Regions from separate parts of the Homo sapiens genome. Here region 2 is linked to region 1. A link means that fine-mapping ties the variant in region 1 to the expression of a gene that starts in the linked region. Tissue or cell type: monocytes. Region 1 holds a variant in brackets; the other region holds the start of a gene. All regions are shown on one strand. Distances are from middle to middle.

The links. PIP is the estimated chance that this variant, and not a neighbour inherited with it, causes the effect.
Region 2: it holds the start of ZDHHC17, and the variant in region 1 is fine-mapped to the expression of ZDHHC17 in monocytes (TOPMed, PIP 0.96). The same link has a PIP of 0.9 or more in whole blood.

What each region holds. Positions count from the first base shown.
Region 1 is chr12:76,531,798-76,539,906 of GRCh38, forward strand. All of the region lies in intron 1 of OSBPL8 (oxysterol binding protein like 8), which reads right to left. Among named protein-coding and RNA genes, the nearest start is that of OSBPL8, 24 kb to the right of the region's middle. The variant T/G (reference allele first, on the strand shown) is at 4,412.
Region 2 is chr12:76,759,719-76,767,827 of GRCh38, forward strand. It overlaps ZDHHC17 (zDHHC palmitoyltransferase 17), which reads left to right and starts at 4,397. Exons shown (of 17, transcript NM_015336.4): 1 at 4,397-4,611. The coding sequence starts at 4,519. RefSeq lists enhancers at 3,895-3,994, 4,291-4,585, 4,561-5,403, 4,595-4,744 and a silencer at 4,135-4,544.

The sequences.
Region 1 (8,109 bases):
GAAGCCGAGGCAGGCAGATCACGAGGTCAGGAGATCGAGACCATCCTGGCTAACACGGTGAAACCCCATCTCTACTAAATATACAAAAAATTAGCCAGGCATGGTGGTGGGCACCTGTAGTCCCAGCTACTCAGGCGGCTGAGGCAGGAGAATGGCGTGAACCCAGGAGGCGGAGCTTGCAGTGAGCCGAGATCGCGCCACTGCACTCCAGCCTGGGCAAGAGAGCAAGACTCCTTCTCAAAAAAAAAAAAAAAAAAAAACTGACCAAAAAATACACAGAAATTGACAAATCTGTTCCTTAAAATTTTTCTTTTCTAAACAAAAATTTTTGTTGTGGACTGTATCTGAGGCACTATATTCTCTAAGAAGAGAAAAAAAAACTGTACTCCTTCAGCTGAAATAACATTCTAATTTCTCTGATATTCACCCCCAATTAAACTAGGTGGTATCAGAAAATGAAAAGCACTTAATATATTTAAGAAAATACCATAGTGAAAAAAAATCACTATAAATTATCTATTTTAAGCAAAACTATTTGATGTTGCTCAAACAACATAGCAAAACTAGATCATTTCACTTTATTATTTGTTAAAAATCATCTCCCTTCGTCACACACTGAATCTATGAAGTAATTAATAATGAATACAATGAATGCTTATATGTATTAGGATCATGGCAAATCTATAAAGGCTGAAAGGCTTGGGTTCAGCCAATGAAGTTAATATTGTATTATAAGATTTCTAAAAATGTTATATCCACCTAGAAACTACGGCAGTATTGGATTTTTGTTTTAACCTGTCCGGACCCATTTCCCCTTCCTCTGTTAACATCCACCTTGATCTTCTTTTGGGAAAGGAACATCCCTCCTCCAACATATGCAATCTTGGTACTCCACGCTCTCCTAGCAAAAGGAGTGGACAAAAAAAAAAAGAGCCAGACCAATCAGTCCATGCCTGTCTCTCTCTCTCTGATAAATGTGAATCACAAGCAGAGTGATCACGTGAATGAAAAACAATCACAAAAAAAACTATCCTAATGGGGGCTCCACAAAGATTGTTGCTTTCTGCTCTCTAGATCCCTAAAGCTGTTCAAATGTCTACTATTTCTAAAACTCCATTTTTCATCTTGGAAGAAAATGAGCTTATCATCCTAGTAAATCATTTAAGTTACCCAAACCTTTCTATTACTTGAACCGAAAAACCCTAAATTGATATAGGTACTATTTAACACATTTGTAACCAAAATAGTCTACCTTTGAATAAGGAAATAAAATAAAAATTAACTTCAAAATATTTTTAAATGAATTTACAAAAGTAAAATCAATGTCAGACATAGAACATTTTAAAACACCATATATCCTATCATAAGAAAAAAATACAATAGCATAGTATTCATTTATGTGTTTCTTGCTAGGTTTTTAAACTCCATTACATAAGACCTATCCTATAACCATATGCAAGAACCAGGTTTTTTTTAAGACCAGGTTTTGATAATAATCATAAGGAGAAAAAAATGTTTACTCAGGAATGTAATCTCTTCTTCAATTTTCATTTGGATCCTACTACTCAAGGTGCCTTCTCTGGAGCTCCTGCTTCATTTCCTCTTACCCACTATCAAATGAAGGATTTGCGGTAAACTTCATGATTAGGACTAAGAAGAAAAACATTTCTAAAAATATCTATTTGAGCAGCTGACTGATGTTTCCATTTGTCTGACTGATCTTGCAATCCACTGAAGTCTTTATGAGGCAAACACAGGAGCAGACACAAACAAGTGATGACCAGCCCTCCAAAAGCACTTAACAACGATCAGTCTATATCAACAACTTAAAGGCGAGAAACTCAAGCGCTCAGAAATGAGATTATTAACCTCATCTCCACCTCATTACCTACCGGTTTTCCAAAATTCTAAGCTGTTATCAAGTGCAAAGCTTAGAAATGTCTTTCAAAGGACAAATGTGATTTCAGTAGGAAAAAAAATACATCTATATTCCTACTATAGCCTGGGACTTACTATTCATCAAAACAAGTTAATTCAAATGCATAACCAACATCTATAGTCATTTCCAGTAGGTGAGAAATGAGGCAAAATAAACAGAAGATAAAATCTCTATCTAGGAAAGCACACGATTTAATCGGAAAGACCAAAAATACACGTGAAATAAAACATTCATATATAATCAATATTATAATTGAATATGCTACATTTTACCTTTTCTCCTAATATTTTTACTGTAAACTAAAGTGGTTTAAGAAGGGGAAAATACCTGAGTGCTATTTTGAAACCAGGAACTGTATTCATTAATGAGATTTTTTAAATGTCCATTTATATGTAGTCAGAAACAAAATTAAATGCAATTTTTATCTAACATTTTTCTTCAATTCAACATGTTCCCAATTAACACACACTATAGTTTGGCAACTGCCATTACAGTACCTCAAATGTTCCTGCAAAAGACTGCTTCAGGCAAGGATAGGAATGTTTCTGTTAAAGAATGGGCGAAGAAGGAAAAGAAACACAATTTTAAATTGAAAAGTGTTACAATTTCATTTCCTGTCAAGTATCAGACGTGGTATTTAAACACAGGGCTTCTGGTACACACTTTTGTTGCTGCAACCCCAATTTACTGACCTTGTCAAAAATCATATACTATTGGAATCTAGAGTTGCTTACTACCAATAACGGGCTAAAGAAGAATACCAATTGCTGTCTAATTCCTTCCGACTAGCTGAAAGTACTTTGCTTCTTCCTTAATATATACAATATCTGCATTGGAAAATAACAAGCAGGAAGTCCCTGGTGGTGGCAACATCTTGGAAAGCAGAAACTCACAAAAAGAAACAAATGAAAAACAAAAATCAGCAACACATACACACAAGCAATGAGGTCAAGAGAGTAAACTATGCAAAGTTTTTTTACTATTTTCGAGATGATGTTGGTTTGGAAGATTTACACTACCTTCAAAACTTACAAAAACATTCAAAATAATGTGGTACTAGCATACCGCACATATATCAATGGAATAGAATAAGGAGTCTAGAAATGGACCCATAAACAGAGTCAATTAATTTTCAACAAAACTGCCAAGGAAACCCACTGGGAAAAAGAAAATACTTTCAGTAAAAACTGGATATTCATTAAAAACAACAAGAACAACCAAAACAGCCTGGCTTTTATACTAAACAAAAATTAACTCAAAATGAATCACAAATCTAAATACAAAAGCCAACATTATAAAACTTCTAGAATAAAAATGGGAAAATAAAAATTTGTAGACAAAAAAATTCTTAAGATATGCAAAAAATATAAACCATGAAAGAAAACAGATATGCTAAATTTCAAAAAATTAAATTACTTCTCTTTAAAAAGTTTTTAAAAAAGGCAAGACATAAACTGTTAGAAAATATGCACAACACATATATTAGACAAATGACTCAGATTCTGACTATATAAAGAACCTTCAATAAGAAATCAATAAGAAAACAATTTTTTAAATGAATAAAAGATTTAAACAATTTACAAAAAAAAATACAAATGGCTAATAAATCCAAGAAAAGATGCTTACTACCACAGTCATCAGCGAAACGCAAATGAAAAACCACAATGAGATACTATTACACAACCACTAGAATGTTAATTAAATTTTTTTAACTGAAAATGTAAGTGTTGATGAGAAGGGGAGCAACTGGAACTCTCATACATTGCTGGTGAGATGCAAAATGGTACAGCTACTCTTAAGTATTTACCAAAGAAAAATGGAAACATGTCCACTCAAAAATTTGTACATGGATGTTCACAGTAGCTTCATTTACAATAACCGAAAATTACAAACAAGTCAAATGTCTATCAAAAGGTGAATGGATAAACAAATTGGATATTCATTACAATACTGTAATAGTATTCCTATACCATGGAATACTATCCCAAAATAAAAAGGAATAATCTCAAAAATATGCAGGGCAAAATAAACCAGACAAGAGTACATACTCTATGATTCCGTTCATATGAAATCTTAGAACAGACAAAAGCAATCCACAGTAACAGAACCCGAATCAGTCATTGTCTGACATAGAGTAGGAAAGGGAAAGATTAAGTTCAAAGGGCACAAGAGAATTTTGGGGACTGATGGAAAGTTCTATATCTGTATCTATTGTGGTAGCAGTAACATGGGTGTATACATCTGTCAAAATGAATCAAACTATGTACTTAAAATGGTTTCATTTTATTCAGGTGTAAATTATACCTGAATAAAGTAGTTTGGGTTTTTTTTAGTATTTTTTTTAAGTGATATTGGGGGGGTGTGAGGTGGAAAGCAGGAAAGACTACAGAAGTAGCGAAAGGCAAAATGATGCTGTTTAAGTAACAATGTTTAAAATCAGAAAAAATGTAAAAAATCTAGCACAACTAGGCC[T/G]GGTGTGGTGGCTCACACTTGTAATCCTAGCGCTTTGGGAAGGCGAGTCGGGCAGATCACCTGAGGTCAAAAGTTAGAGACCTGCCTGGCCAACATGGTGAAACTAAAAATACCAAATACTAAATACTAAAATACTAAATATTAAATACTAAAAATACCAAAAAAAAAATCAAGCCCAACTAAAACCAAGAGTGTAACTGAGATAATTAATTTTGTCTGTAAAAATGGGAATAACTCACAGGATAGCTGTAAAAAATAGATGAGATAGTTAATCTTATCACTGTACTACTTAACACTATGTATGCTGGTAAATTACAGCAACACAATTCATATTAGTTGAATTTGTATCTACCCATGGTAAGTGTTAAGGTGAAGCAAAGAAAATAAGTAAAAGTAACATGGAATAAATCCTGAAAGAATTTCTAGAGGAAATTATCTTAAGATGCCACTTTTGAAAAGAGAAAAGGAAATGGGTGGAAAGGAAGGAGAGACCTACAGGTGGAGGGAATGGTAATGTGCAGAAGAACGGAGGCGGAAAGGAGCAAGTCATATGTATGAGATGGCAAAATTAGCATGCCTGTGGCAGCAAATCCATATATAGGAGTATCAAAAAAAAAAAAAAAAAAACGAGTAATCTTCCCATCTGACGCGAACACTCATTTAAATGTTACAGTAGGACCCAGAAATGTAACTTCATCCAGTGGATGCTATGATACATGATAAATATATTCAACCATTTAAAACAGAGAAAAATAAAAAGTTCTATCTTTGTGTTTAAAAAATGAGAATGCTTACAATTACCAGCTTCAGTCTCTTGGAGGTTAGCCACAGTTCTTCCCAAAAGAAAAAAAAATTATAATTATTAAAATATAATTATAGCTAAGCAACATATGGACTTGCTGTGCAGCTGTCCCTGTGCTTCTGAAACTATGAAAGCCTTTACATTTTGCAAAGTCTGATTTCTATAAATGACTGGTATTTGGAAAATAAGATACAAGAAAATCTGCCCAAGTAACTAATCAGCTACAACAAGAATTATTTCATAGCATACTACTTAAAAGGTATCAAGACACTAAAATTGTATTTCAACAGACATAGTATGACCAAGATCAGGATTCCTGGGCATTTATAACTTTAAACTGTTTTTACATTTATACATTTAAACGTGTTTAATTAAAGAATGCAGGGTTACCACTGTTATGATGTGCAAACTAACTTAAATCTTAAGATTTTGCTTATAGAACAGTGTTTCATATACAGAAAAGTATTATTTTCAATGTCTTATCACTGAGAAGAGATAACAAAGATAATAGTTATAGTAATAACTTGAGCAAATTAAGTTCTCTGAATGAGAGAAATCTACAGAAATGTACGATGAGAGAGATTCACAATGAGAAATAAAATATTAAAGGACAACAGGCCAGGCACGGTGGCTCACACCTGTAATCCCAACACTTTGGGAGGCTGAGGCAGGTGGATAACTTAAGGTCAGGAGTTCAAGACCAGCCTGGTTAACATGGTAAAACCCCGTCTCCACTAAAGATAGAAAAATTAGCTGGGCATGGTGGTGGGTGCCTGTAATCCCAGCTACTCAGGAGGCTGAGGCATGAGAATCACTTGATCCCAGGAAGCAGAGGTTGCAGTGAGCTGAGATCGTGCCACTGCACTCCAGCCTGGGCAACAGAGCAAGACTCCATGTCTAAAAAATAAATAAATAAAATAAAATAAATAAAGACAGTAATACTGACCTTTAAACGCAGTAGCACCAATGGAGATTGCTGAGGACAACAAAGTTACAGGGTTAAATTAATTTAAGTCTCTTTATTGAGAAAGGCTGTTATATAGTGGCAGTCAGCTAACTAACAAGGTTTTATCTGCTCCATCTACATCAAGGCCATACCAATTAGAGACCTTGACTCAGAGTAGAGAATGTAGAGGTTAAAGAATAACCTTAACGACTTTTGCTTTTTGAACCCATATATTATACATCAATGTAGTCACTAAAATATTTACAAACACATAAAAATTTGATGTGTTATATTGCTCAGAATCATGAATAATTTTTCTTTTCATGATAGTATTTTACACTATTAAATACTTTTTAAACCACTAACTATATATTCACTAAAAGTATATATTTATTCCTATTTTAAGAAACACAAATTGGAAAACAATTCTTAATAATAAGATTAGCAATAAAACACTAGTCAAGACCTGTCACTAACTTTTGTTTTTTTGTTGAAAGAAGATTTTAGGAATGTGACACAGCTATAGATTATTTTTAAATGAGGATTATGAAATATTTTAAATCAAACACCTGTAAGAATGATTAAAGGGATGACAGGCAACATGAGAGCAAGCCCTTTAAGTATAGTTCAAAGGCTTTATCATTGTAAACAAACTTATTTAAAGGTAAGAAATTTGTCTATGGGACATCTATATTATTCAGAACTTTGAGACCCAGTGCAGTGGCTCACACCTGTAATCCCAGCACTTTGGGAGGCCAAGGCAGGCAGATCACTAGAGGTCAGGAGTTTGAGACCAGCCTGGCCAACACGGTGAAATCCCATCTCTACTAAAAATACAAACATTAGCCGGCTGTGGTGGCACATGTCTGTAGTCCCAGCTACTCGGGAGGCTGAGGCAGGAGGCTGAACCTGGGAGGCAGAGGCTGCAGTGAGCCAAGATCACAACACTGCACTCCAGCCTGGGTGACACACCAAGACTCCATCTCAAAAAAAAAGAAAAAAAGAAAAAAGATTAGAACTTCGAGGATGAAGTTCAAAATTGAAAGGAATAAAAAAGGAATGAGAAGTCCTAAGAGCCTGCTATTAAATAACTGGGGGGGGGGAGGGGGAGGGTAAGTATCCTGAATCTCTTACTTAGGGTAGGAAGTATATTTTGAACCACCTACCTTAAAACCATGCCACCCAACAGCCACACAGAGAAAAAAAAAAGACAGATATCAACTTTTTTAAAAGTAAATTTAAATTAAAGCTCTGCCTAGGGAAGCCATTGTTGGAGTCATTCATTTTCTCAATATTCTTCTCTATGCGTATTTATGTCTCTGTTTTAATAAAACCCTATGCAGAAAAAATAAGTAAAATTTTTAAGTGTTTAAGCAAAAAGTCAAAAAGGGCAAAGAAATTTAAACATATGTAAAGGTAACAAGAAAATATTAGAAAAATAAATGCCAAAGTTTAAGAATAAGAGTGTACAAAATGTCAATGTACTAAGAAGACTATGGACAAAGATAAAAACAGATAAAAATAAAAGGAAATACAAATGAAAAACTAAAACAAAATAACATCAGCAACTTAAGACACTGAAAGCAAGAAAACAAAAGCCATCTTTCAATCAACGTAATATTAATAATGTAGCAATGTTAATTCAAAAAATGAACACCTTTACCCAAACACTCTTCAAAGACTGCTTTTCCCTCCTAAGATTTTTCATGAAAACTTTAGTTAGCAAATAATCTCACGATAAAAAGCCGAAGAGTGAAGAGCACAGCTCCTGGTCTCATACCAATGGCTACTATCCCTAGTGCTCCGGCTTTTCTAAGACACTTATACAAGAAGATAGCACGATCCCTCAAAGAATGCTGAGCAGGCCGTAAGTGCCATTTGTCTAACTTCCCATGAGCAGTCAACGGGTACAACCAAACATAGACCCATACACATCCCACATCCCCTAAA
Region 2 (8,109 bases), 230 kb after region 1:
GGTAGAAGGATATGGGGAGGTGCTGTTCAATGGGTATAAAGTTTCAGTTATATAAGACGAATAAGGTCTAGAAATCTGCTGTACACCATTGTGCCTATGGTTAACAATACCCTATTGTGCACTTAAAAATTTAAGAGAGATCGGCCGGGCACCGTGGCTCACGCCTGTAATCCCAGCACTTTGGGAGGCCGAGGCGGGTGGATCACGAGGTCAGGAGATCGAGACCATCCTGGGTAACGGTGAAACCCTGTCTCTACTAAAAATACAAAAAATTAGCCGGGTGTGGTGGCGGGCGCCTGTAGTCCCAGCTACTCGGGAGGCTGAGGCAGGAGAATGGCGTGAACCTGGGAGACGGAGCTGGCAGTGAGCCGAGGTCGCACCACTGCACTTTAGCCTGGGCGACAGAGCAAGACTCCGTCTCAAAAAAAAAAAAAAAAAGAAATTTAAGAGAGATCTTGCGTCAGGTGTTCTCACCACAAAAAAACCTTTTTTTTTTTTTTTTTTTTTTTTTTAAGACAGAGTCTTGCTCTGTCGCCCAGGCTGGAATGCAGTGGCGTGATCTCAGCTCACTGCACATGCCGCTCCCGGGTTCACGCCGTTCTCCTGCCTCAGCCTCCCGAGTAGCTGGGACTACAGGCGCCAGCCACCATGCCCGGCTAATTTTTTGTATTTTTAGTAGACATGGGGTTTCACCGTGTTAGCTAGGATGGTCTCGATCTCCTGACCTCGTGATCCACCCGCCTCGGCCTCCCAAAGTGCTGGGATTACAGGCGTGAGCCACCGTGCCCGGCCCACAATAAAAAAAATTAAATGGACCAAGTAATAATTCATTGAGGATAATAACAACAGAAGAAACGTGGTAGAGGCAAAGAGTAGTAGATGGGGAAAATTCAGGAGGCTTCCAGATGATTCTGCTACCACCTAGTTTTGTAACTTTAAGAGAGTTTCTTAAATTCCCCATCATTTCCTTTTTTGTGAAATGACTAAATCTGGATAATCTCTATGCTGTCTTTAGCTCCAGTAGTGTCTGAAGTTACATATGAAACTATATTTATACAACAATGCCCCATGCCTTCCAATCTGTTTGCTTCTAAATCCATTTCACAATTATTCTCTAACAAGGTCTATTTTTCTCTTTGAATTTTATTCTTTTTTAGCCACTATTCTGCATTCCTCCATAATTCTATGCCATTCTTTTGCCAGTCTATCCAATCAGTGTACTTTCTTAGCTGTCTCCTTAGTCCCCTGAATATATTTTCTCAATTTGAGCTATAGATAAGAACTCTACAGTTATCAAGATGGACTCTGATCATATCTAAAGGGTTTGCTTCAAGATTCAACTTCAACATGTTTTCCTAAGCATGCCTGCTTCTGCTCTTGATCTCTTTCTTCAGTTCTTCATTTAATAACTATTTATTTTAGTGCTCCAGCAGTAAGCAAGACAGACATGGACCCTGGTTATGTTGTTCCAACTTTTCGGCTGCTTTTAGTATTTTCCTTATATTTGAATTGTGGAATTCTCAGGAGTAAAAATATCCACAGAGCCAGGCAGGTAATGAGAACGAGTAAAGCAGGCCATAGACCTGGTAGAGACTGAGCAAGAAGGTCAAGATGGCTTGTTTGCCAGATGAACTAGAACTCTAGATTTTAAAGTGAACTCTGATTTACTGATTTTCGCAGGGAAGGCTAAACATTTCTTTTATGAATACTCCACATCATATACCTGTACCAATATTCCTAATACATGGGTACCTGAAACATTTTCTCCAGTTTTCCATGCCTAGTTTCTTTACACTCTCACTTCATTCAATGCTTTATTAATATTTATGCCACTTAACTTTTTCAGTCGGTGTCCTTTATTTACTCTAATCTTCTATTTCTAGTCAATGCAAGACATAAAGGTAAGGAAGGGCAAGATTCAAAATTGAGATTTTTGGCCGGGCGCAGTGGCTCACGCCTGTAATCCCAAGATTTTGGGAGGCCGAGGTGGGTGGATCACGAGGTCAGGAGTTCGAGACCAGCCTGACCAACATGGTGAAACCCCATCCCTACTAAAAATACAAAAATTAGCAGGGCATGGTGGCGCGCCCTTAATCCCAGCTACTCAGGAGGCTGAGGCAGGAGAATCGCTTGAATCTGGGAGGCAGAGGTTGCAGTGACCTGAGATCTCGCCACTGCACTCCAGCCTGGGCCGCAGAGCAAGAAAGACTCCGTCTCAAAAAAAAAAAAAAAAAAAAAATTGAGATTTTTGGCTGGGTGCGGTGGCTCACGCCTGTAATCCTAGCAATTTAGGAGGCAGACGCGGGTGGATCACCTGAGGCCGGCAGTTCCAGACCATCCTGACCAACATGGAGAAACCCTGTCTCTACTAAAAATACAAAATTAGCCGGGCATGGTGGCGCATGTCTGTAATCCCAGCTACTTGGGAGGCTGAGGCAGGAGAATCGCTTGAACCTGGGAGGTGGTGGTTGCAGTGAGCCGAGATCGAGCCATTGCACTCCAGCCTGGGCATGAGTGAAACTCAGTCTCAAAAAAAAAAAAAAAATTGAGATTTTTGAGTGAAAATGACTTATGTCCATGTTAACATATGACTGAAAACAATTCGATGCTCCAAGGGCCGACCCTGAGACTATCTAGCTGTAAAAGATGACTCCTAGTTTGGGCCAGGACGAACAGAATGAAAATCAGCTCGGACTGAAATGAGAAAAAGTAGTTGTGCTGGGAGGACAGATACAGAAAAAGCCAGCAGCAAAGTTAACTGAGAAACTTCTTTCTCCCACAGCCGTGCAGTAGCTATGACACGCCATATTCACCCCTCTTTGAGTAACTGCTGCTCTTACTAGTGTTGCTACTTTATTACTGGAGGTACCTAATTACTAAATTGCTGTATCCTCAAGACAGCATCCAATCCCTCGTAAATCCCAGCTTTTCTTCATGCCGCCACGGAAACGGCGTCCCATGCAGAACTGATTCTGGCTCTCCTTAGACCCTCCTCAGACTCCTTTGGCGGGAAACTAATCTTACAAAGGAGGCTTCCTCTTTCCTTTTCCAGTGGCATTCCAAGCTTCCTTTGGAGTGCCCTCCCTCCTGATTTACAAATTGGCCTGACGTTATCGGAGTACAGGCTTTTTCCTGGTGGTTTCTGGCCTAACAGGAGACAGATTAGTAAGTACCAGGATCTCTAATAGGTCAACTTTCATGATCTCTGCTAAATTCTCAGCTGTTTAGACTTACAATTTTTAACAGCTAAAAGGAAAGACAAATGCTATCTAAAACTGTCCCATCAGCCCATTTACAGGGAGCACCTCCCCCATACCGCCCTAAAATCCTTTAAAAAATGGCTTTAGTCATTTTATCTGCCTTGCATTTAAGCGAATTCAGTTTAAGTGGCTTCAGTTCTGAATTCCTGGATTATATCGAAATGTTGCAGATGGCGGTGTGTGGGCTTTGAGCTCGTAAATTTTTTGTGTGGTACTAATTCAAGACGATTGAGAGCAGGTTGGGATCATTTTAAAAAGAGTTCTCGGCAGGGTGTGGTGACTCAAGCCTGTAATCCCAGCACTTTGGGAGGCCGAGGCGGGCGGATCGCTTAAGGTCAGGAGTTCGAGACTAGCCTGGCCAACATGGTGAAAACCCGTCTCTACTAAAAATACAAAAATTAGCCGGGCGTGGTGGCGTGCACCTGTAATTCCAGCTACTCGGGAGGCTGAGGCAGGAGAATCGCTTGAACCGGGAGGCAGAGGTTGCAGTGAGCTGAGATCGCGCCATTGCACTCCCGCCTGGGCGGCAAGAGCAAAACTCTGTCTCATTAAAAAAAAAAAAAAAAAAAAAAAAAAAAAAAAAAGGGTTCTCTAGTAGGAAGTCCCGAGTTGTATCCATGTTTTTCCGGGCGTCCCCCGGAGGGACAGGTTGCGGGTGACCTTTTCAAGTGTGGAGGAAAGGGAAGCTGCTTTTGTCTTCAGGAATGATGCAGGTCTCGACTCAAGCCTGACGGGCCCAAACCTCCCTGGAGCTGGCTGACGACTCTGCCCGAGTTCCTGAAGAGGGGTCCCGGGGGTCCCGGAGCGGAAGTGGGAGCGCGTGGGCGTGGGCTCCTCGGCTGCCTGGGGCTCCAGACTTGTGCTGCGTGCGGCTCCGGAGCTCTGTTCTCGCTCCTGAGCAGCTGCTAGGTTTCCCAAGCGACTGTCTCAACCGCCCGGCCGCCTCCCCCGGGCAGCCAGAGCTTCACATCTACCTCCAGCCGGGACCCGCCCCCGAGCCGCGGGGCCCACGCCCAGAGCCCTCCGCCGTCCCCAGCGCAGTGCAGCAGAGCGCGATCCAGTCTGGGGCCGGGCCGCGCTTCCGCGCACGCGCGGAGAAACCCGCGCCCTCCGAGGGGGGAGGGGACAGAGGGGGCGTCACGGGGGCAGGAGAAGAAGGAGGAGGAGGCCCGCGTCGCCTCCGGCGGGGCTCGCGCTCGCCCCGCGCTCGCCCTCCGCCTCGCCCGAGCCCCGGGAGGGTGAAACGCTTTCTCCCAGCATGCAGCGGGAGGAGGGATTTAACACCAAGATGGCGGACGGCCCGGATGAGTACGATACCGAAGCGGGCTGTGTGCCCCTTCTCCACCCAGAGGTGAGGAACCGTGCTGAGTGGATTCCTTGCCCTGCGGCCCTCCAGCCTTTCTTCCCCGGACTCGCCGAGGGCGGCGGCCGACGTGTGTGGGGTAGTGGGACGTGCCGAAGTTGGGGAGGGTGGGGAGGCGAATCCAGGCCTGAGCGCGGCTGCGAGCGGATAACGGGGGAGGAGATAGCGGGGCGGGCCCGACCGGGGCGGGCTCTGGGACGCAGTCCCTGGCTGTGCCTGGAGGACAGAGGTGGAGGTGTTGATGGTTCTGCTGTGTCGCCGCGCTGCGTTTGAGAGCAGAGGCGGAGGGGCCTGGTGTGGTTTTTGAACCGCAGCTTAGACCCTAGTCTTGCTCCAAGCCTCTTGGGGCCAGGTGGAAGCGCGTCTGGTTTTGATTTCTTTTTCCTTCGCCAGGGTGAATGACGGTATCTATTGCTTCCTTTTAGTCCACTGTGAGGGGACAGTTTCATGGGCATAGTGATGTCCTTCCAGGTAATGCCATGGGTAGCACCTCGGGCACCTTGTGTCGGGCGTCCTTTTTTGAGCATTTGTCCTTAAGCGATTAAGAAGAGAGGTAAAAACTTTTGGGAATAGACTTACACTCACATTAGCTTGTCAAAGTACCGTTTTTCTAGGAGCTAGGGGTGGACAGTGCAACACGTTTCCCATCACAACATGAGTGTCTTCCCATGTAAGTAAACAGTGCCCCGCTCCACAGTCAGTCAGTCTGTGCTTGTTTACCTCCGAGTTTGTAGCTGAGCTAGTGCTAGTTAAGGCTTGGAAGCAATTCTTGATGCATTCTGATTTTTAGTGATCCACAGTGATGTCTGTATGCGGCAGCGGCACAGTTTGCTGAAGAACTCGGGTAGTTTTCATGAGGTTAAAAGATGACAGTCGTGTTGTAGGATGAACAAACATGGAAGTCTCTACCTGGTTACTTTGCAATGGAGTGATTCTGTTTTTTTCTGGATTTGGGTTTGTACCATGCCACTAGTTTTTGTTAAAAAGTGAATAATGACAACCATCCTTTTATGTTGCATGTTAACACTCAACCACCCTCTCATTCGTCACTTTGGTTTATCAAAAACACATGGGACAGTTCCTTCGGAATATATACCTGTGCCAGTCTCAGTAGAAAAGGCTACTCTGGGTTTCTGATAAACAGAACTATACAGTAAGACTAAACACTTGTCTGACCAAAGTGGTAACATTTTCAGAACTGGCATTGTAGACATCTCTTTTGGTTCACTTAGGCCCTAACATACGTCAGGAAATAGACAAAGTAGTTTTCAGATGTTGCCTTGAAAATGTTGCTAAGTGATTTCTATTCATCTGTTCCTGTGAAAGTATTCGTGAAAGTATTTCAAACACTTAAGTGTTTATCCAGTTTATTTTTTTGAGACGGGGTTTCTCCCTGTCCCCCAGGCAGGAGTGCACTGACACGATGACAGCTCACTGCAGCCTCTACCTCCAGGGCTCAAGTGATCCTCTCCCCTCAGCCTCCTGAGTAGCTGTGACCACAGGCTCGCGCCACCATACCCGGCTGATTTTTTTATTATTTGTAGAAGAAGAGGTCTCCCTATGTTGTCTAGGCTGGTCTTGAACTCTTGAACTCAAGTGGTCCTCTCACCTTAGCTACTTAAAGTGCTGGGATTACAGGCATGAGCCACCATGCCAGGCCTATCTTACGTATTTTAGCATACTGTTCTTCATAAACCTTTGCTTTGTAATATAGTACTGTTGTTTGCTACTTTAAGAATAATTTTAACTGGCAACAAATCCAGATTATTTGGTGTAGTAGAATGGCCAGTATAGGCTTGAAATTTAGCTACCGATCTTCAGGTTGCCATTCGATAGATAGGATATTACTAGAAAGTCAACCTCCTCATCATTGATAGTGGGAATTGGCATACATAATATATACCGTTCCTTTTTACCCAAGAAGCACAAGGTCTGATTATTTTAATACTTTGGATGGACCTTAAGCTTGTACTACATGGCTGAGGTCTTTCTGCATTTTCTGTGGTTAGTGTGTGCAGCTGGTGCAGACCTGGGGTAGTTCTGCTGCCTCCTAGCAGTGTGTTCTTGGGCAAGCTATGAATACGTCTCTGAGTTCTAGTTTCATCATTTATAATGGATAAAAATAATAGTTAATAAGCTATAGCGAGGATTAACTGAGATAATATGTTTTTGTTGTTAAAATAAGCAGTGTTTTCAGTCTCCTTTGGGAAGAAACCCATTCTCTGTCTTGGTAAGTAATGAAATAATAGTACTTTTAACCTCTTTTTGGAGAGAACATAGACTTTGGGTCAGACAGACTTGGATTCTAATTCTGGAAATTCGGTAACTAGCTAAGTGACCTGAGACAAGTGCTTAATTTCTTTAAGCTTCAGTTGTAATCAGAAAATGGAGATCCTGGCTGGGCTCGGAGGCTCACACCTGTAGTCCCAGCACTTTGGGAAGCCGAGGTGAGAGAATCACTTGAGCCCAGGAGTTCGAGACCATCCTGGGCAACATGGCAAAACTCTGTGTCTACAGAAAATACAAAAATTAGCTGAGCATGGTGGTACACGCCTGTAGTCCCAGCTAATCGGATGCTGAGGTGGGAGGATTGCTTGAGCCTGGAAGGTTGAGGCTGCAGTGAGCCATGATCGAGCAGCTGTACTCCATCCTGGGTGACAGAGCAAGATTATGTCTCAAAAAAAAAAAAAAAAGAAAAGAAAAGAAAATGGAGATGCTGCCTAGTTTACTTGGCTGTAAGGGATTAAGTGAGGCTATATGTTGAGGGTCAAGAACTGGCACATTGTAGGTGCTCAGTTAATGTTACTTCTTTTTTCTCTACCAGAAGAAAGGGAAGTGTTACACATTTATTTTGGTTTTGGTGACTGATTTAAAACTTATGTGGGTTTTAATTTAGTGGAATAGGATCTTGCAGGAACAAATTTCATTTCACTTTTTATCTTCCAATTTAATACTCTCACACAAAAACAGTTTTTCACTTTAGTATTTGTTAAGCAGATGAATTATTTGTGGGTAAAGAAATGAGCATTGCTTAAATCTCTTATTAGTATGCAAACTGCCCACTGTTAAAACCTTTCTTAGAGGATTATACAATTAGATAAACGCCTTTTTAGAGGTATTTTAGGTAAGATAATCTTACTTTTTAATGAATTAAATCATCCACTCATTTAGTTGGTCATTTAAACATTTGTTTGTCATGTTTGGGTAAGGAATTGTGCTGGAGTCTGTGTGAGACTTCAGGATATTTTTGGTGTTCAGTGAGAGGCAGTGTAGAATACTGGTTAAGAGCCAAAGTTGGCTGGGCGTGGTGGCTCACGCCTGTAATCCCAGGGTTTAGGGAGGCCGAGGCGGGCGGATCACCTGAGGTTCGGAGTTCAAGACCAACCTGACCAACATGGAGAAACCTTGTCTCTATTAAAAATACAAAATTAGCCATGCGTGGTGGCACATGCCTATAATCCCAGCTCCTCAGGAGGCTGAGGCAGG